Linked DNA regions of Homo sapiens: region 2 is linked to region 1. Evidence: fine-mapped expression QTL. A gene starts in region 1. The other region holds a variant in brackets. All regions are shown on one strand. Distances are from middle to middle.

Region 1 (15,577 bases):
GCCATGCTCAGCTATCTTTTTTTCTTATTACCAAAATAACATATGTTTAACAGGAAATATAGCCAAGCAAAACATTTTGATCCATATCTTCCTATTTATGTACTTTAAAAAATACATAAATAATAATGTGATAACACTTTACTGTTTCGTAATCCAATTTTAACATTCTATGTTGAGCACTTTATTTTTCATTGAATTCTAAAACATATATTTACTTTTTGAATAAGTATTACAAGACAACAGCACACAACTTTAAAATACAAAAGTTACTTATGCAATAAGAATAACTTCTCTCCCATCTTTGTTCCCTAGTCACTCTGTTCCCTGTTCTCCTCTCAGGAATCAACCACTTTTTGGTTCCTTGTATATTATTCTTTTTTTCTGAAACAGAGTCTCACTCTATCATCCAGGCTGGAGTGCAGTGGTGCAATCTCAGCTCACTGCAACCTCTGCCTCCCAGGTTCAAGGGATTCTCCTGCCTCAGCCTCCCGAGTAGCTGGGACTACAGGTGCCTGCCACCACGCCCAGCTAATTTTTTGTATTTTCAGTAGAGACAGGGTTTCACCATATTGGCCAGGCTGGTATTCTGCATGTAACTTATACACATATAAAAATTTATAAGTCATTTTTAATGGTTGTTAAAATGCCACTAAATTAATATACCATGATTTATTTAATGCAGTGTTGGACACTGAAATTGTTTCTGATTTATAAATTTATAAAATAACATTGTGATGAATATTTTTGTAATTAAAATCTTGAGCTATACATTATTATTTCTCTAGGTTAGATTTAGAAGTGGAATTGCTGGGTCAAGGTTCATGTACATTTTAAGGCTTTGGGTTTATGTTGACAGATTGTAGTTCCAAAAAACTGGACTTACTTATTTTCCCAAGTTAGTATAATGGAGTGCCCATTTTCCTACAAAATCACAAAAACTGAGTATAGTTTTTTTTTCCTGTCCCACAATTATTACAACTTGATTTTGTTGTAATCAATATATTTTGTTTTCCTGATCAGCTTCTTCCAAGGCCCTAGGCTCACCAGGTCCTCCTCTATCCTGTACTCCCTGAACTCCTCCCATGCCTTCTGTTTCGGCGGTCCCATGACCCAAGTTCAGTGATTAGGTAGAAAGACTCACAAGATGGAATAGCAAGTAATATTCGTGGTAAGGCTTATTACAGCAAAGGTTACAGAGCAAAAGCAGTGGGAAAAAGATATGCATCAAGGGAGTTCAGAGAGGCCAGGCACAGGCTTCCTAAGCATTTCCCATTGGGTACTACATAGGAGTTCCCTCGCTCTCACTTTCTCTCTCTGGCAGTGAATTTGGGATATGTCTCTGCCCAGGGAAGCCCCTTTGAGTTTTAGGATCTGAGACTTTTATGGAGGGGCTGGTGACTTAAGCATATCCTACTATCCCTCCAGCACAGTAACCAAAACTTAAAACTCCAAAAATAAAACCAGGTATATACATCATTAGTCTTTTTTATTTTGATTTTTAGTAAGTCGAAAATAATATCATACATCATTAGTTTTTATGCTTGTGCAAAGCAACCTGATGATAGTTATGATTCTGTTTGTTCTTACATTTGAGCCCTGTGTTTTTTAGATAACTAGACTTCAAAAGTCCTTGTTTCAGAATTTTATCATAGGCCTCTTACTCTAGCCCTTTCCTCATACAGAGGTCTGGCCCTTGCTTTTTAAGCTTGCTGGCCTAAACAACTTGCTGGCTATGGTTCTTGCCTCTGTGTAATGGCCTCCCAGACATGGACAGTCTACTATCTGAACTTGCAAGTATTGCCTTGTCTATAATTCTCTTTAGGAGTTGGAGGTGGGAATGGCAACAGTTAGAAAACCTAAGCAAGGCTGGGCACAGTGGCTCATGCCTATAATTTCAGCACTTTGGGAGGCTGAGGTGGGTGGATCACTTGAGATCAGGAGTTCAAGACCACCCTGGGCAACATGGTGAAACCCAGTCTCTACTAAAAATACAAAAATTAGCTGGTCATGGTGGCACATGCCTGTGGTCCCAGGTACTCGGGAGGCTGAGGCAGGAGAATTGCTTGATCCCAGGAGGCAGAAGTTGCAGTGAGCTGAGATCATGCCACTGTACTCCAGCCTGGGCAACAGAGTGATACTCTGTCTCCAAAAAAAACAAAAAAACAAAAAAACAAAACAAAAAAAAAAAACTAAGCAAGACTCAAAGAAGGAAAGATAAAGATAATACAGGGCTCTAAGTTAGGGTTCTTGGTTTGCAAACAAAATGTGTGGTAACTCATAGAGTCAAAGGAAAAGATGAAGAATGAGGCCCTGGAGAAGACAATACCCAGAGTAGTTTGGGGTCTAGAACTTTCCTTAGGGTTCTTCTATTAGAATTAATCAGCTTCAATACCTTTTGGCTTTGGACACAGGCACACCTCTGGTGGGAATGTTTTGAATACCTTTGGCTTTGGACACAGGCACACCTCTGGTGGGAATGTTTTGAGTACCTCAAGTAGTAGTCCCAAGACTGTGTGCAATGGGGTCTTTCTGGTCCCCTGAAGAGAAACTGAGGTACCATTACCAGAAGAAGGAATAGATGCTGAGAAAAACATGTATCCACTTTTTTATTATTATTATTATTTTATTTTTATTATAAGGAAGCCACCACAAGATAATTGAGCTTGCTAATCAATTTTTGTATGGGGTATTTTATTTCTTACTTTTGATATTGAAATGGATACACTCGGCCTCCCAAAGTGCTGGGTTTACAGGCCTGAGCCACCGCTCCCAGCCACTTTCACTATTTTCTGACTTGTTGAATTCCTTCCCGAGATGGTATCAAGGGCCTGGACACCAGCCAGGGTCAGGGTCCCACCAGCGTTTGGAGATCTTCCCTAGCTCACCAGTATCAATACTACCATGCCATCTTAGTGCCAGAGTTTTGCTTTTTGTTTATAATTATGTTGGTACCAATTTACCATCTGTTATTTGCAAGGGTTATGTTAAATGGCAATAATCTTTCTATGTCTGTTCTTTTACCCATATCTAATTTTTAAAATAAATTATGAAGATAAAACACCTTTTTTATAGTCTTGCTGGAAGAATTTAAACTTAAAAGTGTCCAGTCCTCTAGCTGTAACTACTAATTTACAGAGAACACACAGGACACAGATATATATTAAAGTACACCCTGGCAGGGCACAGTGGCTCATGCCTGTATTCCTAGAACTTTGGGAGGCCAAGGTGGGAGGATCACTTGAGACCAAAAATTTGAGAACAGCCTGAGCAACATAGTGAGACTCCATCTCTATTTAAAAAAAAAAAGGCAGGCCATGGTGGTCCCAGCTACTTGGGTGGCTAAGGTGGGAGAATCGCTTGAGCCCAGGTGGTAGAGGTTGCAGTGAGCCAAGATGGTGCCACTGCACTCTAGCCTGGGCAACAGGGCAAGACCCTGTCTCAAAAAAAAAAAAAAAAAAAAAAAGGGCAGTGTATGGGTTTGTAATCAGCAGCAAAACCCATAAACACATGGTTTCTTCGGCAAGTAAGTCACAAGGGAAAAAGAGACAAAGAGGCAGGGCAGGTTGGGAGATACATAAATAAAATAAATTGCAAAAGAAAAAAAGATATTTAATTTTGTTTAAGCACAGACCAAAAAAAGGTCACTGAGCTACCCACAAAACACCAAACATTCCTTTCCTTGGCCACGAAGAGGGACTGCTGCTGCTTTAACAATTAGACCTGAGGAAAGGAAAATAGCTGAGTAGCCTGAGCTATATCAGGTATGCAAATTTTTTTTTTTTCTTTTTTTTTTAGAGACAGAGTCTCACTCTGTCACCCAGGCTGGAGTGCAGTGGCACAATCTCGGCTCACTGCAAGCTCCGCCTCCCGGGTTCACACCATTCTCCTGCCTCAGCCTCCTGGGACTATAGGCGCCCGCCACCACACCCAGCTAATTTTTTGTATTTTTAGTAGAGATGGGGTTTCAGCATGTTAGCCTGGATGGTCTCGATTTCCTGACCTTGTGATGCGTGCGCCTCGGCCTCCCAAGTACTGGGATTACAGGCCTGAGCCACTGTGCCTGGCAATGTATGTAAAATTTATCAGGTCCAGGGAAACAGGAGTATGGAACTTCAGTCGCACCAACCCCATTGTTTAAAGACATTTTATGGCTAGCTGTATCACCCATTATCTTATTTTTTTTGAGACGAGGTCTCACTCTGTCACTCAGGCTGGAGTGCAGTGGCACCATCAGGGCTCACTGCAGACTCGACCTTCCTGGCTCAGGTGATCCTCCCACCGCAGTCTCCTGAGTAACTGGGGCGATAGGTGTGTGCCACCATGCCTAGCTAATTTTAAAATTTTTTGTAGAGGCAGGGTTTCATCATGTTGCCCAGGCTGGTCTCCTAGGCAGAGTGAGACTATGTCTCAAAAAAAAAAATCTAATTTTACTGGAAAGGGGTTCTGATCCAGACCCCAAGAGTCAATTTTTGGATCTCACTCAAGAAAGGACTGGGGGCAAGTCCATGGAGTAAAGTGAAAGCAAGTTTATTAAGAAAGTAAAGGAATAAAAGAATGGCTACTGCATATACAGAGCAGCCCTGAGGGCTGCTGGTTGGCTATTTTTATGGTTATTTCTTGATTATATGCCAAACAAGGGGTGAATTATTCATGAGTTTTCTGGGGAAAAGGGCAAGAATTCCCCAGAATAAAGAGTTCCTCTTTCTTTTCAACCATATAGGGTAGTTTCCAGGTGTTGCCATGGCATTTGTAAACTTTCACTGCACTGGTGGGGGTGTCCTTTAGCATGCTAGTGTGTTAAATTAGCATACAATAAGCAGTAAAGGAGATAGCATGTGAATATATTATAATTAGCAAGAAGTCACTTTTGTCTCTATCTTGGTTTTGGCTTCTTTACCGTATCCTGTTTTATCAGCTGGGTCTTTGTGACTTGAATCTTGTGCTGACCTCCTATCTCATCCTGTGACTAAGAATGCCTAACCTCCTGGGAATGCAGCCCAGCAGGTCTCCAACTCATTTTACTCAGTCCCTACTCAAGATGAAGTCACTCTGGTTTGAACATCTCTGATAATAGAACCGCTCAGCACCCCAGCTCCATTTTCCAAATCATCCAATCAAGCCCCAGATCCTAACACCTCCTAATTGAGTCTTCTCATGGTTTCCCATGGTGTGCGTTCCCCCGTCTTAGTCCATCTTGGGCTGCTATAACAGAATAACTGAGATTGGGTAATTAATAAAGACAGAGATTTATTTCTTATAGTTCTGGAAGCTGAAAATTCCAAGATCAAGGGCTCCACATCTTATGGGGGCTTTGTGTTGTTATCCAATGGAGGAAGGTAAATGTGCAGGAGAGTGCAAGAGTGAAAGAGCAACAGATAGAAATCGAAGCCTTAAGCCCTTTCATAATTGGCATTAATCCATTCATGAGGGTGGAGCCCTCCCATTAGGCCCCATCTCCCAACACTGTTACATTGGGCATTAAGTTTCCAACATATGCTTTTTGGGGGACATATTCAAACCATAGCATCCCTCTTGCTGCAATTAATGATAAACAAAATTTTTCAATTACTGGTGTGTTCCTGGTCTTAAAAGTCTTTGACTTGTCCTAAAAGACACATCAACCAATGACAATGTATAAATTTCATTTTGATTCTGATTTTAACAAATGAACAGTAGGAAAATAAGTAGTTATTGAGACCACAGGATATTTGAACACTGACTAATATTACGCAATTACTATTTTTTAAAGGTGAGACAATGATACTGTGTGTCAGGCCTCTGAGCAAGGCCGTACTTCCAAAGGAAGTGGAGTCTCACTGCAACAGCCATCACAAGGCATCAGATCTCACTGCTCAAGGCAACGCTTATGCTGATAAGGTAGCTAAAAAGCAGCTAGCATTCTAACTTCTATCCTTCATGGCAGTTTTTCTCCTTCTCATCTGGTCACTCCCACCTACTCCCCCACTGAAACTTCCGCCTATCAATCTCTTCCCACACAAGGCAAATGGTTCTTGGACCAAGGAAAATATCTCCTTCCAGCCTCACAGGCCCATTCTATTCTGTCGTCATTTCATAACCACTTCCATGTAGGTTACAAGCTGCTAACCCGTCTCTTAGAACCTCTCATTTCCTTTCCATCGTGGAAATCTATCCTCAAGGAAATCACTTCTCAATGTTCCATCTGCTATTCTACTACCCTGCAGGGATTGTTCAGGCCCCCTCCCTTCCCTACACATCAAGCTCGGGGATTTGCCCCGCCGAGGACTGGCAAATTGACTTTACTCACATGCTTCAAGTCAGGAAACTAAAATACCTCTTGGTTTGGGTAGACATTTCACTGGGTGGGTAGAGGCCTTTCCCACAGGGTCTAAGAAGGCCACCGCGGTCATTTCTTCCCTTCTGTCAGACATAATTCCTCAGTTTGGCCTTCCCACCTCCTCTCTTTCCTTGAAAATCACTGAAGCCTCGACTTACTCACTGCTGAAAAAGGAGGACTTTGTATATTTTTAAATGAAGAGTGTTGTTTTTACCTAAATCAATCTGGCCTGGTATATGACAACATAAAAAAACTTAAGGATAGAGATAGAGCCCAAAAACTCTCCAACCAAGCAGACAACAACGTTGAACCCCCTTGGACACTCTCTAATTGGATGTCCTGGGTACTCCCAATTCTTAGTCCTTTAATACCTATTTTTCTCCTTCTTTTATTCGGACCTTGTGTCTTTCATTTAGTTTCTCAATTCATACAAAACTGCATCCAGGCCATCTCCAATAATTCTATACGACAAATGCTCCTTCTAACAACCCCACAATATCACCCCTTACCCCCAAATCTTTCTTCAGTTGAATCTCTCCCACTGTGGGTTCCCACGCCGCCCCTAATCTCGCTCGAAGCAGCCCTGAGAAACATCGCCTATTATCTCTCCATACCACCCCCAAAAATTTTCGCTGCCCCAACACTTTACCACTATTTTGTTTTATTTTTCTTATTAATATAAGAAGACAGGAATGTCAGGCCTCTGAGCCTAAGCTAAGCCATCATATCCCCAGTGACCTGCACATATACATCCAGATGGCCTGAAGCAACTGAAGATCCACAGAAGTGAAAATAGCCTTAACTGATAACATTCCACCATTGTGATTTGTTTCTGCCCCACCCTAACTGATCAATGTACTTTGTTGATCAGTAATCTCCCCCACCCTTAAGAAGGTTCTTTGTAATTCTCCCCACCCTTGAGAATGTACTTTGTGAGATCCAACCCCTGCCCCCAAAATATTGCTCTTAACTCCACCGCCTATCCCAAAACCTATAAGAACCAATGATAATCCCACCACCCTTTGCTGACTCCCTTTTCGGACTCGGCCCGCTTGCACCCAGGTGAAATAAACAGCTGTGTTGCTCACACAAAGCCTGTTTGGTAGTCTCTTCACACGGACATGTGAAACACTGTGGTCAATTTTTTTTCTTTTTAATAATAATTCTTTTTTAGAAATATGTGCTTAAATAATTGTAAGCCAGGCATAGTTGCCTGTGCCTGTATTCCTAACCACTTGGGAAGCTGAGGCAGGACTGCTTGAGCCCAGGGGTGTGAGGCTGCAGTAAGCTATGATCACGCCACTGAACTCCAGCCTGGGTGACAGTGAGACCGTGTTTAAAAATATATATATACAGATGAAATGATATGATGTCTGAGATTTGCTTCCAAATATGCCTAGGAAGGGAAGAAGTGTTTAGAGATATAGACAAATCAAGATTGTCAAAATGTATAGTAACTGTTAAAGCTTGCTAAGGTAGTTATTCTATTTTTGGATATGTTTGGAATTGTCCAAAGGTTTCCTAAAACTTATGTTTAATATTCTTTCAGGAGAAAGCAATATTGTAAGATCAAAGAAAAGGCCATAACAGCGCACCCAAAAAATTTCAGCATTACCATTCTGAGGGTCAGGAGTCTCCTCCCTTCCATCCGCCAACACTTGAATCAGGACTATAAAGTAGGTGTTTCCAAGTCTCAGGCAGGTAAATGGATAAATTGCAAAACTGGATGCAGAACTCACATCTGCCTCATACATAGGCCCTGTGACACCCCACCAGCTCCTTTGCTCCCTTTCTGCCTTTCTCATGCCGTCCCAGAGTCTTGCACACTACCAAGATGGTGGTGAGTCAGGACAGTGAAACAGGTCGGCTCTTCACTCCAGGAGTGTGCGCGGGCGCCGGGCCGCGCAGGCGCATTACTGCTCCCCTCCCCCGACCTTGGCTGATCGCGCCTGCGCAGTGGGGAGCAGCTCGCTCCTGGGCTTTGGGCTGGCTGCAGTCTGTCTGAGGGCGGCCGAAGTGGCTGGCTCATTTAAGATGAGGCTTCTGCTGCTTCTCCTAGTGGCGGCGTCTGCGATGGTCCGGAGCGAGGCCTCGGCCAATCTGGGCGGCGTGCCCAGCAAGAGATTAAAGATGCAGTACGCCACGGGGCCGCTGCTCAAGTTCCAGATTTGGTGAGTATGTGCACTGGGCCCCGGCCACCCCGCCGCGCCTCTGCTCGGCGCCATTGGCTACGCGAGGCCCCGGCTTCGCGGCCTAAATGGCCGCATCTTCGCTGGCCTCGTAGAACTGTGCCGGCGCCCTTCCACAGCCAGCCTTCTCGCGGCCCCTTAGCGCGGTCAGGCCGCCCTCCTTTTCCAGGTATAACTGCTCACTTGTTTTTTGCCTCCTAGAACAGTGGGAATGGGGAAGGAGGGCGCGAGAAGGTTAAACGCTGAAAGGCGAAGACTGGGGGACACCTGTTAGTACGGAGGACTGGTTGGCGGCGTCACGCCATAGCCACCCCGGCTGCCTGCGGAGATGGGGATGAGTAGGCGCCGCGTCGGCGGAGGAGCGCCAACCGTTTGTCAGTTCACTTTTTCTGCCCTCTTTTCCGGGGTAATGCCGGGCGGCTTCGCTGCCTGGCTAGATGAAGGTTAATTCGGGTCATTGGAGAGGATCCGGGAGTGACAGACGCCGTTTTTCTCCTGAACTTGCTGGGGGGACTGTTGAGTTTGCGAATGGGGCGTCTGACAGCTGGAGGGGGTGGAAGGAAGGTCTGGGGATGCTGGTTCTGTTTGCCATTTCCAAAGTGTCAGAAAAGGAGCACGTTGTTCTTCTAAACATTGACAGTTCGCTCGCATTCCCTCCTCACCTGCCTCCCAGGAGTTGCCTGCTCTGGCATCTCTTTCTACCTTTCAGTTGTCTTGTGTATCCAGCAGATCTCGGCAGTTTTCGACAGTGTTCTTTAAATGATTTTGTTTTTAACCTAATCGTTAGAAGCAGGGCAATGATGCATTTTATACGGTAAGTGGGGTTGCGGGTGGGGATTGAAAGGCTCTGAAGATGGGGGAAAAAACACCAAAATTGTAAAATTATAGAAATGAGAATCTTACACCTCCAAAGATGACATTTTCTCAGGATAAACCGACCATCCCAGAATAGCCAGATTAGTAAATCATCAGAGTCCGGATACATTGGAATGTTGGTGTTGGACATCATTCATTTAAAACCTTCTTTTAAGAACTTCATGTATTAGTATATTAAAGTTTTGATTTTCTACTTCTCCAACTAGCTTTTTACTTACTCACTGAAGACCAAGCAAACCTTTAAAATAATTTTTAAAAATCGGCTTAAGGTGATGTTTGAGTTAGAAAATAAGATGGTGAGACTTTATTTTTTTGAGTGAAAACTAAAACATTGCAATTTCTCCTGATTAAAAACAAACAAGGCCGGGCTCGCTGGCTCACGCCTGTAATCCCAGCACTTTGGAGGCCGAGGCTAGCGGATCACCTGAGGTCGGGAGTTCGAGACCAGCCTGACCAACATGGAGAAACCCCCATCTCTACTAAAAATACAAAAATTAGCCTGGCGTGGTGGCGCATGCCTGTAATCCCAACTACTTGGGAGGCTGAGGCAGGAGAATCGCTTGAACCCGGGAAGCGGAGGTTGCGGTGAGCCGAGAACGCGCCATTGCACTCCAGCCTGGGCAACAAGAGCGAAACTCCGTCTCAAAAAAAAAAAAAAAAACCTCCCTGTACAATGTACTATGTTTCTGGAATATATCATCTTTCATGTAATACTGCAAATGGGAGAATGGTTTATCCATTAACTTTTTTCCTTAATTTTTAAATTAGAAGGTGGTAATCATCTTACTAACCTAAAGATTGTTAAGGGTTGTGATACTTACGGATTTAAGTGTTAAAAAATTGCAGTTTTCAAATTATTTAATTTTTCTGTATCCTACTTTTATCTCTTGGTTGTATTTTTGCTTTTCCAAAATACCCCTTTTACGTTTGCTTTTTTTGGAACACTTGTCACAATAATTTACCAGGTGTATCTTCCACCAAGGCTATTCATAGCAAGGTTTTCAAAATGTGTAAACAAACGTAGGGAAGGGCATTCAGTCCTTCAAATTAAACTTAAAAAAAAAGTAGTAAGTACTTCAGTTAAACTTTTGATACTTTGTTTTTCTTTGTTTTTAAGTACAGACCTGTCCCAAAAGTCTAATAATTTTCTTTTACAGTCACTCTGAGCATGTTATATAACAAAAATGCTTCCATTTAAAAAATTATTTTTATTTTTATTTTTCTGACACTATCCACCGGAGATCATTTTTTGTTTAATCTGTAGATGGGAAATAACGTTATTAATAAGACCCACCAAATACAGATCAACTTAGCTTGTTGTTTGTTGCTTTTCCCCCCAGAGATTAATCTGTTTATGGTAAAGTGAATATTGGGTTTCTGGTTTTGCTAGAATCTTGTGGACATTAATTTGCAAGTTTGTTTGAGAAAGGACAGGAAGCTAATACGTTTGAGGATAAACATGAGAATTTTAAAATTCCATTTGAAGTCAGTATTATAAAATGCAGCTTTTCATTAATTACCACTGCTAACAATCAAAAGAGAACTATTTTACCTTCATTTCCACTGACTTTTTCCCCTTATAGTGATCATGAGTATTTTATCAAAAATAACTATACCTCAATATATCACCTGGTAATTGTACCACTTTTGCAATTGTTAGTCAACACAATAGCAACATAGTGCTGAGAGATCAAGCTTGTAGAGTAGCTTACGACAGAGTTTCCTATTCTCGTTTTTTTTTTTCCTTTCTTTCTTCCTTTTTTTTTTTTTTTGCTGAGACAGAGTCCCGCTGTGTCACCCAGTTTGGAGTGCAATGGCATGATCACGGAGCCTTGACTTCCTGAGTTCCGATAATCCTCCCACCACAGCCTCCCAAGTAGCTGGGACTGCAGACGCGCACCACCACGCCTGGCTAATTTTCATATTTTTTGTAGAGACCTGGTCTTGCCTTGTTGCCCAGGCTGTGTGTAATACCTGCTGTATGCCAGGAATTAAGCATGCTAAAGATGTGACCATCTCAAGAAGTCTACCAGACTGGCACAGTATTACTTGTGTATCTGAGTCTGTGGTTTATTATGTTGATTGAGCAATATAATTAGATACTTTTGATTATATTGGCTTCATACTTGGAAAAAAATTTATTCTGCTTATTTGGACGTTTAACACTTAACATAGAAAAAGGAAGTTCTCTAATCAGAGCTTAAAATTCCATTGTTTTTGAGACAGTGTTGCTTTGTTGCCCAAGCTAGAGTGCAGTGGTGTGATCTCAGCTCACTGCAACCTCTGCCTCCTGGGCTCAAGAGATTCTCATGCCTCAGCCTCCTGAGTAGCTGGGACTGCAGGTGTGCACCACCACGCCTGGCTAATTTTTGTATTTTTAGTAGAGACGGGGTTTCACCATGTTGGCCAGGCTGATTTTGAACTCCTGACCTCAAAGTGACCTACCCACCTTGGCGTCCCAAAGTGCTAGGATTACAGGTTTGAGCCACTGCCCCCGGCTGAAATTCCCTTTTTGTGTTTTCCTTTTATTGATTTTTATAAATTTGTATTGATAGTTACTCTTAGGCATGATGTTTGTCATACATACTTTCTCCGTATATGCGATTTAACATGTAATCAGATCTACAGCATTTAATTAGTTGCAGTTTAAAGAGATTATTGGCTACAACCCTTTACAGTTAATATTTACTTGAACATTTGACAACTGAATTGCTGAGAATAGTAGATTAAATGAAATTGAGATTTCAAAACATAAGTAGAATATGGCGGGATTTTCAAAGTTTTGTTAGTTTGAGAATCTACTGCTGTAATTTTAGGACAGCCAACTTCTAAATGTAGTTTTAAGAGGTAAATGAAACAACTGTACCAAAACAGATTTTTATTTAAATTTACAACTATTCAGCCTTGGCTTTCATAGTGTGACAGCAAGAAAATAAAGACCTAAGGTTGATTTGGATGTTGATACTCATCAAGATTAGTAGTAAAATGCTGAATTGGAGAAATTGTGAGTTACAGAGATCATGTTGGTTACTGTAGACTTGATATTTGCATATTCAACAGATATTGGAGCACTTACTCTGTGCAGGCACTTTGCTTCCTGCGGAGAATTCAATTCAGTGCTCTCGTGGACTTCACAGGCAAGAGCAGATGCAGACATTAATCCATGGACTGACCACACAGATAAAATTCAATTGGTGTTAAGTGCTGTGAAGAAAGATTATGTGGTGGTATGAGAGATGCCTAGTCGGGATCAGGGAAGGTTTCCATGAGGAAATGAACTTTGAACTGAGATTCGAAGGATAAGATTTATTTGGCGAGAACTTTCCAGGCAATGGGAATAACATGTTCAGTGTACTTATAGTAGGAAAGACCACAGTTTTACCAGAGAAGCCTAAGCCTACTGACCTCAGAGACCTAAAAGAAGGTGCCGTTAAGAGCTTGAGGGTCTGGCAGGCCATGCTTAACAAAGACCGTTTGGTTTTCTTGTGGAAAAGACATTCCAGGAGACAAAGAATTGATGGGAAACCATTTAGGGCGGCTTTTGGAGTTGTCCAGGCAAGAGATAATGGAACTTGGAAAAGTAAGGAGGTGGTAGAAATAGAAAGAGATGTATTTGAGAGATCTTTATGTGGTAAATTTAACAGCTCTTAATGATGAATTGTATGTTTGTGGGGAAAGAGAGGTGGCATGAAGTGAGAGATGTCAAAGATGATTCCTGAGTTCTGTGGTGATGCTATACCATTCACTGGAATGATAATTAAAATAAACAAGTATTATGAATGTTTTTGGTGGGAGGGAAGGAATCCTGATTTTTGAAGACTAAGGACATAGTAGCCAGGGGAAAACCCCCACAAAGAAATTTTTATCTCCAAAATAGCCATGATAACTGAAACTAAGAAACTTAAATTAACAGTTACTTTATTACATCAAACCTAAAATACATAATGGATTGTAAGATGTACCATGATTTTATATGCCATTTAGAAGAAAAAAATACTGCCATTTAAACGGACACACTAATGATTATAAGATAAATCCTGTGGCTTTTTTTGTTTGTTATTGTTTTTTTAATTTATAGAGATGCTACATGTAGCCACGTTTAGTGGCTTACACCTGTAAATTCCAGCTACTCAGGAGGCTGAGGTGGGAGGATTGCTTGCGGCCAGGAGTTCAAGACCAGCCTGGGCAACATAGCGAGACTTTGTCTCTAATTTTAAAAAAAGGAAAAGTAGAGATGCTAAATATGGAAAAGTATGCTTATTGGTATCAATGAAATAAAGGAGTAGTAAGAAGTTGGTGTAGATAGCAGGTTAGTAGTAGTAGAGTGTTACCATTAAAAAAATAGCTGCAGCATGTAATTGAACTCCTTGCACATAATAGTTGTTTCCACTTAATAATGAATTAAGTACTTAGTTCAAAGCTTTTAGATATAGGTAAACATGACTGAATGATCTTAAAGGTTTTATAACCTTTTACAAAAAATTGAAACATAATTTCCTAACAGTTTGCCATTAAGGCAAGTGCTGGACAATTGAGTTGAATATATTATTTAGAAATACCAAGATAACCCCTAAATTTTGATTAGTACAGTTTCTTTCTCTCGCCTGATTGTTCTGCCTAGGACTTCTAGTATTATGTTGAATAGGAGTGGTGAGAGTAGACATCCTTGTTTTGTTCCAGTTCTTAGGGGGAATGCTTTCAACTTTTGCCCATTCAGTATGATATTGGTTATGGGTTTGTCAGAGATGGCTCTTACTATTTTGAGGTATGTTCCTTTGTTTAAGTTGTTGAGGGTAAAACTTAAGTTTTGAATACACTGCGCCATCAGTAACTTTTCGGCCTGGCCTCCGTGCCTCTACAGGTGGGACTATAAACTTCCAGAATTCTCTGTGCTACTGCTAGTCCTTTTCCTGCTGCCCTGAAACTGACACACCCTTGCTACTTATTCTGTTGATGTTTTCTTTTTCTTTTTTTGAGACTGGGTCTCACTCTGTCACCCAGGCTGGAGTGCAGTGGTGCAGTCATTGCTCATTGTAGCCTCGACTGCCGAGGCTCAAGTCATTCTCCCACCTCAGCCTCCCAAGTAGCTGAGATTACAGGCGCGCACTACATGCCTGGCCAATTTTTGTATTTTTTTGTAGAGAGGAGGTTTCACCATGTTGGCAAAGCTGGTCTTGAACTCCTGGGCTCAAGCAGTCCTGCCTCAGCCTTCCAAAGTGTCGAGATTACAGGCAGGAGCCCCCTTGCCCAGCCTTGGTGTTTTCTTTCTTTTTAACACATCCTCTGTCAGGATATAGAAAGTTGGGAATGGGAGCATGGATAGTATCTTACTTCACTGAAGTTGACCAGCTATTTGGTTCTCCCTTTGGGATGAGCCTTAGATCTGTGAGCTTTCAGATAGGAATTTTCCTGAAGCAGAGTTTAGGTAATTTTTCTTAATCTTGACCTTTCTGTCTACCTTATAATTAATATAATTTTCTCCTAGATTTTGTCATTAGGTTGTTGGTTAAAGTGTCAGTGTTTGGTATGATTTATTTTTGTGAATTTTTGTGATTTCAGAATTTGAGTAAGAATTTGATAGGGGCTATGTACCAAAATTACATTACATTAGAGAATTTCATTAGTTTAATGTTTTAAAAGGTAATTTTGGCTGGTAGAAAAAAATGAGGAACAGAGTGAATGATATCAAAGATTCCTAGTAGTTATGTGAATGAAAATGAAACCCAACTGTTTTACTTATGATTGGTCTCTATTGTCACATTACAGTGCTTACTTTTGAAGGTAGCTTAACTAATTTTGTTATAGTTTGGCATTACGAAACCTAGCATTTGTACCACAAGCAAGACAGTCTTTTCATTAGGTATAAAGGTACCCTTTTCTTTTCATTTTGACAAAGGTGTTCATTTGATAAGTAGTTGTGTCATTAAGCAGAACTACTTATGGTTGATTTGATTTGGTTATCTCAGCACTTCAAATTCAGGATGGCACTGTGTTTGGTTTTTCTTCAAGTTTGCATCTTAGTAACCAAAAACAGTCTTAACATTTCAATCAGTCTATTAGACTGGGTTCATGTTTCATTATTTTCAATTTTGCTGGTAGAGAGAAGGAAAGGATAGAATATACATAATTGATGACCTAAGAGAAGTGTGATAGAAAGATACACCAGTGAAATTATTGTTCTTTCTCTCCTTGCTCT
Region 2 (15,577 bases), 28 kb after region 1:
CATATGTATTTTTAATTGTGGAAATAGAATAACAATCCTAAATTTTTATAGAAAGTGGTATTAAATTCTGTATTTCATAAAATAATAGTATTTTTAAAGACCAATTCTGTATAAATTTGTAGGTTAATTTTTCAGGTGATTTTAAATATATTAAACATTTTTGTTTTAACACTGCACAATAAACTTTAATTGCTTTTTCTATAAGTAACTTTTAGATTTGGTGTCTAGAAAATCTTTACATACACTTGAATTACTAAATTTTAAAGTAGATTGGAAATTGTGGCTTCTGATGATTTTCTTTCTTTTCTTTTGATAGACACATAGCATCTTTCCTGTCAGTCTTCAAACTAGTATTAATAGGCTTAATAATTGTTGGCAAGGATCCTTTTGCTTTCTTTGGCATGCAAGCTCCTAGCATCTGGCAGTGGGGCCAAGAAAATAAGGTATGTAACTTAATAGCTTTGGTAACTGTAGGTTTTTATGTTGTCAGTGAAATATTCTAATAGATTTTCTTATTTTGAATACTTGTTATTGATTCACCTGTTAACATGTATTATTTTAATTTATACCAGTTTTATCTCTGGGGAAGTCACTTAGCCTCCCTTCACCTTCATTTCCATATTGATATATTAAGAATGATTAGGTCTTAATCTTTTTATTTTGGGGGGATAGGGAGGTGTTAATTTAGTATAACCTGGGCACAAAATAATTTGTTATCTGATTTTGATTATATTACTTAGGTCAAATCATATCCAGCAAAACATAATATATACATAATGCAGGCCTTTTAAACCAATTAATGTCATATTAGTGGGTTGATTCACATTAAAAAGGGGATTCCCATTAACTTGTTCTTATCAAAACTCCTCTCTCTTTTTAAATTATTTGTCCTTTGCCTCTTCTGTTTATGGATCTGTTTGACTAATTGCCTGAAAGAAACAATGTAAATATACTTAAGAACTTTGTGCTGTTTCTCTTTTCCTTTTGTAGGGTCTTATTGCCACATACATTCTTTCTAGATTACTCTGATTTTAATTTATTTTACTTTTAAGTAAAATATTTTAATATTAAAAATGATTTTAATCATTGTTTCTGGAGGGCTTACTGTCCTGTCTAAAATGGGTCTAATTTTTATTTTTCTCATGGATTAGATTTTTCTAGGCTTCCTTTTATGAAGTCTTCCTTTTTGGAGTCTTCTATCTGATCTTGTCCTTTAATTCTAGGCTGAATACCTTTAGCAGACTCCTGCATAGCTGTGCTTCTTTTTCTTTGGGAACCATTTCTTTCCAGTAACAGGCAGGACTTCTTAATATAAATATCTTCAAGTGGTATCTCTAATTGAAATATATCTCTACCCTGTAGGTTTTATGACATTTCCTTGTATATTGTTCCCATGAAAATAGACTTAACATTCCCAAATGGTAGAGTAATTCCTATAAAAACAAACCCCACCTAGCTCCTGTGGGGCAGTAGGGAAAGCTCTTTCTCATCTGCTGTGAACATTTGATTTATTTTTCTGAAACAGCTTGCTGTGAATTGGCATTCTCACTGCATCCTACTTTTAGTCCTGTGATTTTGTTAAAGTAAAATTTTCTGTCCAACAAGAAACACTTAGCCGCTTTTGGGAGAGAGTATAGATTTGCCTTTGAAAGGTGAATGAATGTACTTTAATATGCCTATGCTTTCTAACCTACTTCTTTCTTAGTTTGACTTAAAATGATTTGTTTGAAACATATACAGGTTGTATTGAATATTATATGGAGTTACTAATTTTGCATCACAAGTCTCTTATGAATTCATATATTATAAAAATGGTAAAGTGAACTCTTATGCTTGTATTCTTTTGTTTAACTTATTAAGGCTATTATGAAATCTCTCAAATTCTGTGTACATTATGAATATCATCTATAAGTGCTTCAGCATGTATGGAGCTGCAAATTAATATTGGTTTACTTTTGCTCTATGTATGTTATCTGAACATATGGAATAGCAGTAATAGTTTTTATGGGAACTTTTAAAGTAGATTAAAAAGAGCATTTACCAAACATGACTTTGCCTGTTGTGCTTAATTATATTTTCTTTTAGGTTTATGCATGTATGATGGTTTTCTTCTTGAGCAACATGATTGAGAACCAGTGTATGTCAACAGGTGCATTTGAGATAACTTTAAATGGTAGGTTCTGAATAGTTTGCATTTTGTGATTGATTTTAAATGATTTATAATGAGTATCAAGCTTTTATCTTTTATAATAAGATAAACTTCTTTAGTGTTTGTATAAAAGTAAGTTTATTTGAAAGAAATTGAAAATTCAGGAGATAGAAGAATTTAGAAAATTTTAACTTTTTTTTTTTTAATTTGCTCCCTCAACTTAATCTCTTTATCTCTGCTTGAACTTCACACCTTCGAATTCCTTGAGGAGTTGGCCCTATTCTTTTATCAGATTGTCTCTGTGAACTTTATCTACTCCCATGGCTTTAAAATAACATCTGTATGATGATCCCTGAATGTATATCTCTCGATCTCTCTCCTAAAATGCTATGCTGAAGAATCTTAAACATAACCTACTCTAAAATAAACTCTTGCTTACTTCTCCTTCCTATAATGTCTGTAAACTCTTTTGCTCCTCCTTTGACATTTCTCATTTATTTAGTGATACCATCATTTGTCTACTCAGTTGCCCATGCCAGAAACCTATGATAATATCACCGTCTTCCCTAGTCCCCCTATTTTATGGATTACCAAGTCTTCTCAGTTCCACCTCCTAAATTTCAAAAATCTACCTTCTGTTCATCTTAACTGCCACCACCCTAGTCCAGGACACAATTAACTTGTTACCCTCTTCTGCATTCTCTAAACCAAGGGTTGGCAAATACGGCCTATGAGCTAATAATGTTTTTTACACTTTTTGGTTAAAAAAAAAACTAATGTTTTATGACACATGGAAACTATATGAAATTCCAACTTCTGTGCTTATAACTAAAGTTTTGCTTTGCATCAGTGAAAAATTTGTAGAAATTTATCTTTATATTATATAAGTACCTACATAATGTTCTTGATTTTTATCTCTTGGTCCATAAAGTGTAAAATATTTACCATCTGCCTTCTTACAGAAAAATTGACCAATATCTGTTCTAAACAATAACTTTTTTTTTTTTTTTTTGAGACGGAGTCTCGCTGTGTCGCCCAGGCTGGAGTGCCGTGGCGCGATCTCGATTCACTGCAAGCTCTGCCTCCCAGGTTCACGCCATTCTCCTGCCTCAGCCTCCTGCGTAGCTGGGACTACAGGCGCCTGCCACCACGCCTGGCTAATTTTTTGTATTTTTAGTAGAGACAGAGTTTCACCCTGTTAGCCAGGATGGTCTTGATCTCCTGACCCTGTGATCCGCCCGCCTCCACCTCCGCCTCCCAAAGTGCTGGAATTACAGGCGTGAGCCACCTCGCCCAGCCTAAACAATAACTTTTTTAATGCAAATTTTATCTTGCTGCTTGAGTGTTCCCAATTCATTAAATGACTTGACTTTGTTCTCAAGATAAAGACCAGAACATTTAATCTGGCCAAAAGGCTCTGCATGATCTATTTCAGTGGTTAGCAAGCTGTGGTCCTATGGACCATATCCTCTGCTGCTTGTTTTGTAAGTAAAGCTTTATTAGAACACAACCATGTCCATTTGCTTGTGTATTGTTACAGCTGCATTTAGGCTACAAGAGTTGAATAGCTGTGGCAGAGACTATGTATCTTCCCTAGCCCAAAATGTTTACTTTCTGTCCCTTTACAGTTTATTGACCCCAGTCTAATCCTTTCCACCTTCCCATCCTCCCTTATATCACTCCTCTTCTATATTTCCCTCAGCTATGCTGATTTTCTCTTATTTTCAGTGCCAAGCTACTTTCTGGTCTTTACATTTCTGTTCTCTCCCTCAAAGGTTTTCTACTCTCATGAATCCCCACTCTGTCTTGGTAATTTTTCTTTATCTTTTAGATCTCAATTTAAATGATACTATTTCTCTGACTAGACAGGGAGAGCCTTGTGTATATGTCCCTCCTAGTACAGTAGTGCCTTTTAGTTTTAGTTCTAAGTACACAATTGTAATTTTGTAGCCATTTGTGTAGTTCTTTTGACATTTCCCCTACTGGAATGTAAAGTCCCTGAGAGCAAGCAGTGTACTTTTTTGCCTACTTTTGTATCCCAGTTGTGTACATAGATGATAAATATTAGTGGGATGAATGCATATTATAAAATCATCTTTAATTTTTTGGGGGGCGGTGCCATTTATTTTTATAGATGTACCTGTGTGGTCTAAGCTGGAATCTGGTCACCTTCCATCCATGCAACAACTTGTTCAAATTCTTGACAATGAAATGAAGCTCAATGTGCATATGGATTCAATCCCACACCATCGATCATAGCACCACCTATCAGCACTGAAAACTCTTTTGTAAGTTGTTTAAAATATAGCTAATGTATAGGTTTCTGTTGATTCTTATGACTCAGCAAGTTAGTAAATATTACATATATTATCACTTGAGTTTCCAATTTAAGATTAAACAGAGGGATGTATTCTTCATTAAAATGTTGAAGTGTATGAAGAGAGTTCGGCCCTGCCAAAATAAAGTCAGGTTGTTAGTAATTTTATCTTCAAGGCTTAATGATTGGGTCTGTAACCTTATTTTCTTTACTCTAAATTCCTAATGGCCAGAGTTGATATATTATGCTAGAGGTGTGTATACTTCCTGTCCTTACCTTCAAGTAATTAGTTCCTGGGAGTATGCAAATTCTTTGAACATACTCAAGATAAAAAATTTATAGGCAAATGTGTGAACACAGAGAGGTATTAGTTAACTTTTTCTTTGTGATCAATGAATTCACTTTCTAAAGAGTTTTTATGAGTGATTTTTGCAATAAAATATTCTTTTTTCTGTATATCTTTCAGGCATTAAGGGATCATTGCAAGAGCAGCGTGACTGACATTATGAAGGCCTGTACTGAAGACAGCAAGCTGTTAGTACAGACCAGATGCTTTCTTGGCAGGCTCGTTGTACCTCTTGGAAAACCTCAATGCAAGATAGTGTTTCAGTGCTGGCATATTTTGGAATTCTGCACATTCATGGAGTGCAATAATACTGTATAGCTTTCCCCACCTCCCACAAAATCACCCAGTTAATGTGTGTGTGTGTTTTTTTTTTAAGGTAAACATTACTACTTGTAACTTTTTTTCTTAGTCATATTTGAAAAAGTAGAAAATTGAGTTACAATTTGATTTTTTTTCCAAAGATGTCTGTTAAATCTGTTGTGCTTTTATATGAATATTTGTTTTTTATAGTTTAAAATTGATCCTTTGGGAATCCAGTTGAAGTTCCCAAATACTTTATAAGAGTTTATCAGACATCTCTAATTTGGCCATGTCCAGTTTATACAGTTTACAAAATATAGCAGATGCAAGATTATGGGGGAAATCCTATATTCAGAGTACTCTATAAATTTTTGTGTATGTGTGTATGTGCGTGTGATTACCAGAGAACTACTAAAAAAACCAACTGCTTTTTAAATCCTATTGTGTAGTTAAAGTGTCATGCCTTGACCAATCTAATGAATTGATTAATTAACTGGGCCTTTATACTTAACTAAATAAAAAACTAAGCAGATATGAGTTAAATTTAAAAGTTTCAATTTATTGCTCAGTGTACCTGTTAACATTATATTTAACAATTGCTTAAATTTTTGTTTTTGATTTATGGATAATTTCTTAAGAGTACACACTTTAGATACACAAATAATCGTTCATTTACCATCTTTAGGATCATTGAAACTCATCTCACTAAAGAAAGTTCACTTGAACCTCTTTATAGCATTGATACTAGGTGAACAGAAATTACCTGACTAATAATTTGTCTAACATCATATATCAGAATTTTATTGTATATGATGAACAAAACTTAAAATTTTTTAAATTTAATTTTTAAATACTGTTTCAGAGTTCTAAAAAGGCAGTTTTTTAAAAAACTTAAGTTGATAAAAACTGTAAGAATAATTTAGCAGAAATAGAACCAGAATGTAGAAGAGTAGTCATGTAACAGCAGTAATAACATACTTCAGCTTCCATATAGGAATAGAAGTGGTAGAGCCAAAAGTGATTTAGGAAAAGTTATAAGGTACAGGTTGAGTATCCCTTTTCCAAAAATGCTTGGGACAAGAAGTATTTCAGATTTCATAATTTTTTTCAAAGTTTGGAATATTTGCATTATACTTACCAGTTGGGCATCCCAAATCTGAAATCTGAAATGTTCCATGAGCATTTCCTTTGAGTGTCATGTTGGCACTCAAAAAGGTTCAACATTGAGTCCACTTAACACTTAGGTGTTAGAAGACCTAACTTTCTGTAACAATTAACCTTATACTTTGTTTGTCATCGAATATTTGTTGAATGCATGTCAGGTAATGGTCTTGATTGTGATAGCTTCAAGGTGGAACATACTGTAATCTCCAGATGCTAGGAAGTTAGTCTAATAATTCACTGCAGAAAATTGATTAAGTGGCTGTCCTTTTAATTAAGAGTGTGGAGTCATAAACTTAAGTTCTTCATATAGTGACAAGAGTCCTTAGAGATTGTTATTCAAGTTCCTTAGAAATTGTTATTTAGGTATAATATCATCTTGTCTTTGACTAGAGCTTGAAACCTTGTTATCTGATTGTGTACCACTCCAAATTCCCTGCCTTCTGCAAGTTGAATGTCTTGCTGAATGTGTCTAGGGGTTCATCTTCAGTAATCGACATTCCACTAGTGCCATAGTTAACTTCATGACATGTAGACATTCAAAACTTGAGCCTTGGATGTTCCTGTGGACCTGACAGTTAAAAATATAAAGAACCTAGGATTCAATTCCAACTTTCTCTGTTTGCCTTGGGTTGAATAACTTATCTTTTGGAGAATAGCTTTAAGTGGCTTAGACACTGATAAAATTCAGCTGTGTTGTTGACGCTCATCTCTTTTGTCTTACGCTTAGCCATATTTAAATCTTGAATTTAATAGAGTCTAGTGAAAAAAATGAGTGGGAAGAATGAATATAAAAGTAATAATATAAGGAAAAAGGGAAAGTAAACTATTTAGAATGTAGTTTTGTTATATTCCCAGCATTTCAATATTTATTAGTTACTTGTAAATTACTGTGGCTGTGTAGTTTATAAATGTCTGTGCACTATATTAATTAGAAGACCATAGAACATGCCAGCAGGTTGGCTAATGCTATGGGGGTTTTTACCACAGTTGCCATTGTGGAAGAAATTATTTGGTACATTAATAAAAAAAGTTGGTAAAACATG[G/A]TTTTATACCTCAGTGTATAAGATGTGCAAGACAAATATGCTTATTTCCTTTTCTAGAATATAAGTGATATTATTTGCTTATGACACTAACACTATTAATGACAGGAGTCAATCAGCCTTTACAGCTATCAAAATATAATGAGATCCCAATGATGATTCTTTTTTACTTTGAATGTTAATTAGTTTGGGACTTTGATTGGCTGGCAAACATTTTATCATTGTCAGAATTTAATTTAGATTTCAAAAATAGCTTACAGGATTTTAAACATGGTGTGGTATTCTAAAGCCTTTTTTTTAAAAAAAGAGATCTTTTTGAGAGAAACAAATGAGGATTGTAAAGTTTGGGGACTTACCTCTGTAGCATTGTGAAAATAAACTTTGATTAAGCTGATTTGAAAGGAACTCCTACTTTGTGGAATTAAATCTACATTAGAGCACTTTATATGGTAACTATACTCACAAAATTTTGCATTATAAAAGTTATTATCATTACTTTTTAATGGCTTCTTAACCCGACCAGTGTTTATGACTCACTATCAGTCTGGCACTCAAGTCTTACCATACTCTTGGACCTTATGCTACTTCTCAAGCCTTACGGTCTACTTGTGCTTCAGTGCTGCTGAACTGTCAATAGCTCTGTGATGTATTCTGTGCTGGAGTGGAGCAAAGTGGAACAGTTTACATCACTGTCTGTCTTTACCCCCAACCTGCAGAATTCCTGAAACATTCACACTAACATCCTTAAATCTGGAGAGAAACAAAATGAATGTTTTTCCTCTATTGACTGGTATAGACAATTTAACAATCTCAGAAGAAAGAGCAAATATCAGATTTTTTTTTTTTAATTCAGCTGGCTCCTTTTCCCCTAGGCTTCAGAAAAGCAAATAGAAACAAATAGATCCACAGCCCAGGTGCAGTGGCTCATGGCTGGGAGACCAAGATGGGTGGATTGCTTGAGCCGAGGAATTCAAGACCAGCCTAGGCAACAAGGTGAAACTCCATCTCTACAAAAAAAAAATTAGCCAGGCATGGTAGCATGCACCTGTAGGCCCAGCTACTTGGGATGCTGAGACAGCAGGATCGCTTGAGCCCAGGAGGTTGAGGCTGCAGTGAGTCAAGATTGCACCACTGCAGGTGACAGGGCAAGACCCTGCCTCAAAAAAAAAAAAAAAAAAAAAAAACCCAGCTCCAAACTGTATCTTGAAGAAAAATATAAACTGGTTTCAGATACAGTAGAAAGCTGTAAAGTCATCCATTCTATAAGACTAACAGAATGTTTTCTTTTGCCAATGTTAAGCATGAGCAAAATAAAAAAGCATGCAGACAAACAGTAGTGGTTTTAAAATTTTAATGTGCTTAAAAATCACTGGGACAAATTTCTGGATCCCACTCCTAATGGTTCTGATTTAGTTGATCTGAAATGGTACCAGGTAATTTGCATTTCAAACAAGCTTCAAAATAATTCTAATACTGTTAGTCTGTGGTGTATACCAGGAGTCCCCAGTCCTTGGGCCATGGACTGGTGGTGGTCTGTGGCCTCTTAGAAAACCAGCCGCACACCAGCAGGTGAGTGTCAGGCAAGCAAGCATTACCTCCTGAGCTTTGCCTCCTGTCAGACCAGTGCATTAGATTCTCATAGGAGCCAGAATCCTATTGTGAACAGTGCCTGCGAGGGATCTAGGTTGTGCGCTCCTTATGAGAATCCTAATACCTGATGATCTGAGGTGGAACCTAATACCTGATGATCTGAGTTTCATCCCAAAACCATCCCCCCAACCCCCTGTCCGTTTATGGAAAATTTGTCTTCCACAAAAGCAGTCCCTGGTGCCAGAAAAGGTTGGGGACCGCTGGTCTACACTGAGTAGCACCATACCACAGAGCAGAATGCAGAAGATTCATCCTAGATGCATCCTAGATGCGTCACGTGTAGAATGACTTAACACAAATTCAGCAAAATGGGAGCTCAGGAGATAAAAAGAATGATATGAGAGGGAGATTATGTTTCTAAGAAAACACTGACTTAATTGTCCCAGTCTTATCAATGCAACACATCCTTTCTTGTTATCACTTTACAACCTTTTGCATGAATTTCTTTTAGAAGGAAGTATTAAATCTTTGAGTATAATATAAAATAACTGGTTTGAATTGCCAGATTTTCTCAGAGCAAACCAGGCAATAGCATACCTACATTATCCTTAATTTACAGTGACAACTGATTTTGATTTTCACATTAAGCAAAAATCTATGTAAATTCTTGTAATTCTGAGTAGAGAAAAATTTACATATTTAGCTTTATTAGAGTAATTAACCATAATAGAACTGTTTAAATTGCCAGGGAAACCCAATCTACTATTTTATCCCCACCAACCCCCCCAGAAGGATTAATTAGTTCATGTAACTGAGAAAGTCCAATGTAGAATTGGCTTCAGGGATTCAAATGAGAGAATCAGAACTCTCCTCTAAATCGGCCTCATTTTCTCCTTGAGAGAAATTATAATTAGGGAAGAGAGTTGGGGTAGGGGGTGAGAAGGGGGGATGATGAGGAGGGGAAAGGAAGAAGGAGAGCATGGATTAAAGTCCCAGAAAAGTACTCTGGTCCAACTTGTGTGTCACATTTCCTATCTTGGAACTTTCTCACTTGATATCTACTCCCTGATCATTTTGTCATCTGTTAATCCCTTTTTCCTTTATTGACCCCTTCCACCCAACCTCCTCCTCATTCAGGGTTATAATTGTTTAAGACAAGCCTATTGCTTTGTGGTTATAGGCTGCTCAGATCAAGTACTGCTCAGATCAGGTAGCTATTTAACCTGTTTGAGAGTTGTCTAGAATGGATGGAGCCAGCACTTGATTGCTTGGTTAAGAAACAAAAATATTAAGGCCTCGGGAGGTTGCTACCAACACTCCCTTGGGCCACTGGCCATACTCATCTGTTTTGTGTACTAACAACTCTTACAAGAGGAAAAAAACCATTACAGCTCCTTTGTTACTCTGGAGTTGCTAAGAGCAGATCTGTTTGAAAGAAAGTGTGCCATTGACATTTTTCCCTAAACGTTTTAAAAAATAGTATTAGAAAATGCTGCTGAATTTTGTCTTTTAACAGCTCATAAAATCTAGGAATAAAATTATTTTTTAATATATTAAAATACATAGTGTATATAAGCAACAGGTGACTCATAAATGTGATTCTTCCAGTAAAATTGTGTTTTATACAGATGTATAGAAATTTGGTGTTGAGATCTACTTCAGTACTTGAATTTTCAAATTAAAAAAAAGGCCAAGAGAGGTTAAATGTCTTGCCCTGGTTATATAGCTTATGGCAACGAAACAAAACCAAACAAACCCTACACCCTTGGCGGGGCTTGGGGAAAGCAGAATAACAGCAGAGGACTTTGTCAGAAATTAGGTGGGAAGAGAGAAGACAGTAACAAGGCAATTTTACAAATTTAATCTCAATTTCACTTCACATTTACGCTTTAGCTAAGATGGGCTGAAATTTTTCAAATAAACTAAAAAAGGCAGGTGTATGTGTGTGCAAGATACATCAGAGGAAGGCAAGTTTACATAATAATTTCTTATCCTAATATAATGAAATTCAGGTTTCAGATTGACTGGATCTATTTCCCCACTTGGAAAGATCCTTCCCCGAAAGCAGGTTTATAAATTGCAGTTCTTCAGACGACTCATCCTATTCACTGATTACATGATGAGAATTGAAAACACACAGAGATTACTAGCTATGTGTCCCAGGCAAGATGGCTACCTCACGTGTAAGGTAAGTTTAAAAACAGCACACCTGGCCGGGCTCAGTGGCTCACGTCTGTAATCCCAGCACTTTGGGAGGCTGAGGTGGGTGGATCACCTGAGGTCAGGAGTTCGAGACCAGCCTGGCCAACAAGGTGAAACCCCATCTCTACTAAAAATACAAAAATTAGCCAGGCGTGGGAGCGCATGCCTTGTAGTCCCAGCTGAGGCTGAGGCAGGAGAATCGCTTGAACCAGGAGGCAGAGGTTGCAGTGAGCCAAGATCGTGCCACTGCACTCCAGCCTGGGCGACAGAGCAAGACTCCATCTCAAAAAAAAAAAAAAAAAAAACAGCACACCTGCTTCTCAGGTGCAGTTTGGATCACATGTTCTCTCAACGCTCTTGCCATTTTAATTTGGTGAAATGCTGTGTTCAACTAGATCTCAACTTTGCTGAAGCACTGGCCTGCCTGGGACCATGGCCTAATGTGGCCCATTGCAAAACACAATTTTGTTGATGTCTCATTTTAAAATTCATGCCAAAAATCATTTTATTTCAAATTGTTCATTGCTGGGTTTAATATAAAAATGTTGTTTTATTGTTCTTAACTCCCTAAATCTTTAAGCAAAATGGATGCTCGGGAAATTTGTTTCTCCTGAGGCTGCGTGTAACCCCGGCATCTTATTCCCCATGGGTTTGGAGGAATGCGTGGAGGAATGTGTGTGTGTATGTGTGGACAGCATCTTAAGAAATAAGGTGATCATTATAGAGTCATCTTCTTCAAATTTGTATAAGTTTTCTAGATAATGTGTAGTACAGCCTTCTGCTTAAGGATTATTGCAGTAACATAAGCCAGGCACAGTGGCTCACGCCTGTAATCCCAGCACTTTGGGAGGCCGAGGCAGGCGGATCATGAGGTCAGGAGATCGAGACCATCCTGGCTAACACGGTGAAACCCCGTCTCTACCAAAAATACAAAAAATTAGCCGGACGTGGTGGCAGGCGCCTGTAGTCCCAGCTACTCAGGAGGCTGAGGCAGGAGAATGGCATGAACCCAGGAGGCAGAGCTTGCAGTGAGCCGAGATCGTGCCATTGCACTCCAGCCTGGGCGACAGGGCAAGACTCCGTCTCAAAAAAAAAAAAAAAAGGATTATTGCAGTAACAGAAGAAGATGTGTTTCCGGAGCTTTGTATCCAGAAAATGCATGTGGGAAGATTATATGGAAAATGAAGATAATGAGTTTTAAAATAATACACAAAGTTACGGTACCAGAAAAGCAGTTAAATACCGTACAAAGTAATGAGAAACATGCTGAAAACAGTCTTGAGGAAGGCTAAAATTGTGGTTCCATACGTTGACTGACTGAATGAATATGGTTAAGGCAGTTGTTCTCAACCGGGGTTTTACTCTCCAGGCTCATGCAGAGTGGCCTCTTTGGGTCCTGTAATGGTCCTGTTCTTAACCACCACCGCTAGCTGGGGCCTGGGGTGGAAGAGTCTTATCCTAATCGGTCCCCAGACGGGGAGAGGGCAGTGCTTGTTTCCTAGCCACTCTGAAAGGCTGAAAGCTGTTAAGGAGGCTTAGTGTCATTTCAAGCAGTCTTCCTTGCCTCTGTGAGTAGTTTTTCCATATTTATGCTTAAAACAAACAGAGGAAGCTTTTCATTCCAATAATGAAATAAAAGGCTAAATTCAAGGTAACAAACGTTTTAGTGGGAAAGATTGTCAAGGATAACAAACCAACAAAGGGAAATATCTCTTATTAGCTCTTTTCTTCTTTTGATTAGAGAAAAAAGCCAAAGAACTACTTTTGGGGCTTTAAGTGGCTAGTGGACTACCCCAGAGGACACAAAGAAAGAGGGTTCTCAGTGTTTCTAGGGCACTTCCTGTTTTCTTTGAACTTGTGTGAGAATGTGAACTGTGGTGAGAGGCAGCTTTGAAATGTGACCAAAAAAAAAAAAAAAAAGACTGGTTTTAGTGTAGTTTATTTATTTTCTTTCAAAGCATTTGTGTTAATGAGTTGGATGGTAAGAGGTGATTAACATTCCAGATCAGTAGATTTCAGAAATGTCTTCCAACAGTGAAAATAACTTGTGTTAATCCTCCGAGCTTTCACCTTCACTTAGGCTGACTGAGGGGTGGGAAACAGCTTTGGAATCTTTACTGAGGACCAAGCAAATTTACAGTTTGAAAGTCAATCCTATTTAATTTTCCAACTTCTCCAGAATATTGTTTCCATTTAGCTTCTTGAGAGCATTTCTGGAGGGATTGCTATGTGCTAGGTACCGTGGGGGGTAACAGTTGTGAAGATGTGTGGCACAATTCCTGCATTCAAAGTGCATATGGTATAGCAGAGGAGAGAATCATAAAAATCTTACAGCAAAACGATAAGAAGCCTCATGAGGCCTATAGGAGCAGAAGGGAGCATTGGTTCTAGATGCTTGAGTATATAATTTTCCATAAATGGGGACAGTGCACAGGAGGAGCAGCACTTCAGGGATGAGAAAGCAGAAGCACAGGGTTTCTGTGATAATTCCTATAGGGAAGGGGGCTGGACCGTAGTATATATTGGTGCGGGTGGAGGGAGATGTGCTGGGAAACAGCCTGCGGGCATTGACAGCTGAGGTGAGGAATTGGACTACTTTCTATAGATGATAGCCAAGGAGAGTTTCTGAGTTGATGAGCCATCAGATCAGATCTGGCTTTTAGGGGTGAATCTGTCTGCACTGAGGCTATGGTGGGCGGAGAGGAGGATGAAGAGGTAGAGGTTCTAACAAAAGCATTGTGGGCACTTTCAGCATCGCACTCCAGACATCTTTGGCCTTGGATTAATAATTTATAAGTAATATATTCAATTTAAAAATTAATGTCAACTTTTGTGGTTACATTCCCCTTCTATCCTCTGAGTTTTCTTTTGTCATGCTGAAACCTATACTCCATTAGAATTATCCTTCTTAAATCTAGTCTCATCTTCCCAATTTAGCTTTTAAACTTTGGGTAACATTTACATTTTTTTGTCGTCTATTTTCTGCTCATTGGCTAAGGAGCCTTTTTCCTGCCCTGAGAATATAAGATTCATTGCAATTAAAGAGCCTAGTGGTTTAATGTGATTATTCTTTCTTGTTTTTCTGAGAAGTATCCTTGTGTTTTGTGGACCAGTCAATCCTGACTTTGATCTCTAGGGACAATACACTGTGAGTATTTATTTCAGGAAGGACACTGATCCTAGATATTCACTTAGAGGATGAATTTTCCTTATACCAAGGAAAATTGTAAGGTAGAATTTTTTTTTTTTTTTTTTTTTGAGACGGAGTTTCACTCTTGTTGCCCAGGCTGAAGTACAATGGCGCGATCTCGGCTCACTGCAACCTCCGGCTCCCAGGTTCAAGCGATTCTCCTGCCTCAGCCTCCCGAGTAGTTGGGATTACAAGCATGCACCACCATGCCCGGCTAATTTTTTGTATTTTTAGTAGAGATGGGGGTTTCTCCATATTGGTCAGGCTGGGCTCGAACTCCTAACCTCAGGTGATCTGCCAAGCCCAGTCTCCCAAAGTGCTGGGATTACAAGTGTGAGCCACAGCGCCCAGCCTGTATGATAGAAATTAAACTGATTACCCTTGTGAACTGAATGAGAACCTCCAAATTCTCATTCAATACAAGCATGAGTAGGACCTAGACATCTTATCTTGCTGAAATCTGGCAAGGCATACGGGCTGCCTGGTATACAATATATAGGATGCTCCCTCCCACCCCAGCCAAGATGGCATGATGCACTTACTTGTCCTTCTCTGGGAAGATAATGAACAGTGACGGCAGATTTCTCAAGGGTCCCTTATGATGGAGTTGCAATTCCCCATTCTTTTCCCCTTCTCAGAAATTTCTGAAACTCATTTAGTTAAAAGATTAAAGAAACACATTGCAAAGGGACTTGAAGTAATTGGGACCCGACTCACCTTCCTGATATAAATAACTAGAAGTAGACAAAATATGTGAAACAACTACTCTCAGAAATTGGACAACAGACAGTGCAGGGCCTTGATCCCCAAGAGAAAGATAAATAGCAAGGAACTGCACAAAATGTTTCGAGGAAGCTGTATTAATTAGGTAGGGCTATCATAACAAAATACCACCGATTGGGTGGCTTAAACAACAGAAACTTATTTTCTCATAGTTCTGACAGCCAGAAGCCCAAGATCAAGGTGTTGTCAGGGTTCGTTTCTTTTTAATTTTTTAATTTTTAAAAATTTTTGTGACAGAGTCTTGCTCTATCGCCCAGGCTGGAGTGCAGTGGTGTGATCATAGCTCATTGTAGCCTTAATCTCCTGAGCTCAAGTGATCCTCCTGCCTCAGCCTCCCAAGTAGTAGGGACTACAGGTGTGTGCCACCACCTGCCTAATTTTTTTGATTTTTAATAGAGGCGAGGTCTTGCTATGTTGCCTAGGCTGGTCTTGAGCTCCTAAGATCAAGCATTCCTCCTGCCTTGGCCTTCCAAAGTGCTGGGATTGTAGGTGTGAG

What was found. PIP is the estimated chance that this variant, and not a neighbour inherited with it, causes the effect.
Region 2: its variant is fine-mapped to the expression of SELENOT in whole blood (TOPMed, PIP above 0.99).

What each region holds. Positions count from the first base shown.
Region 1 is chr3:150,595,013-150,610,589 of GRCh38, forward strand. It overlaps SELENOT (selenoprotein T), which reads left to right and starts at 8,309. Exons shown (of 6, transcript NM_016275.5): 1 at 8,309-8,487. The coding sequence starts at 8,351. It overlaps LOC124900547 (a long non-coding RNA gene), which reads right to left and starts at 8,171. Exons shown (of 2, transcript XR_007096128.1): 1 at 7,932-8,171. RefSeq lists enhancers at 4,240-4,329, 4,520-4,719, 4,880-5,089, 8,098-8,177, 8,298-8,447 and 2 more.
Region 2 is chr3:150,622,727-150,638,303 of GRCh38, forward strand. SELENOT (selenoprotein T) reads left to right here. Exons shown (of 6, transcript NM_016275.5): 3 at 317-443; 4 at 2,086-2,173; 5 at 4,284-4,437; 6 at 4,933-7,710. The coding sequence ends at 4,408. Among named protein-coding and RNA genes, the nearest start is that of SELENOT, 27 kb to the left of the region's middle. RefSeq lists a silencer at 12,396-12,690. The variant G/A (reference allele first, on the strand shown) is at 7,320.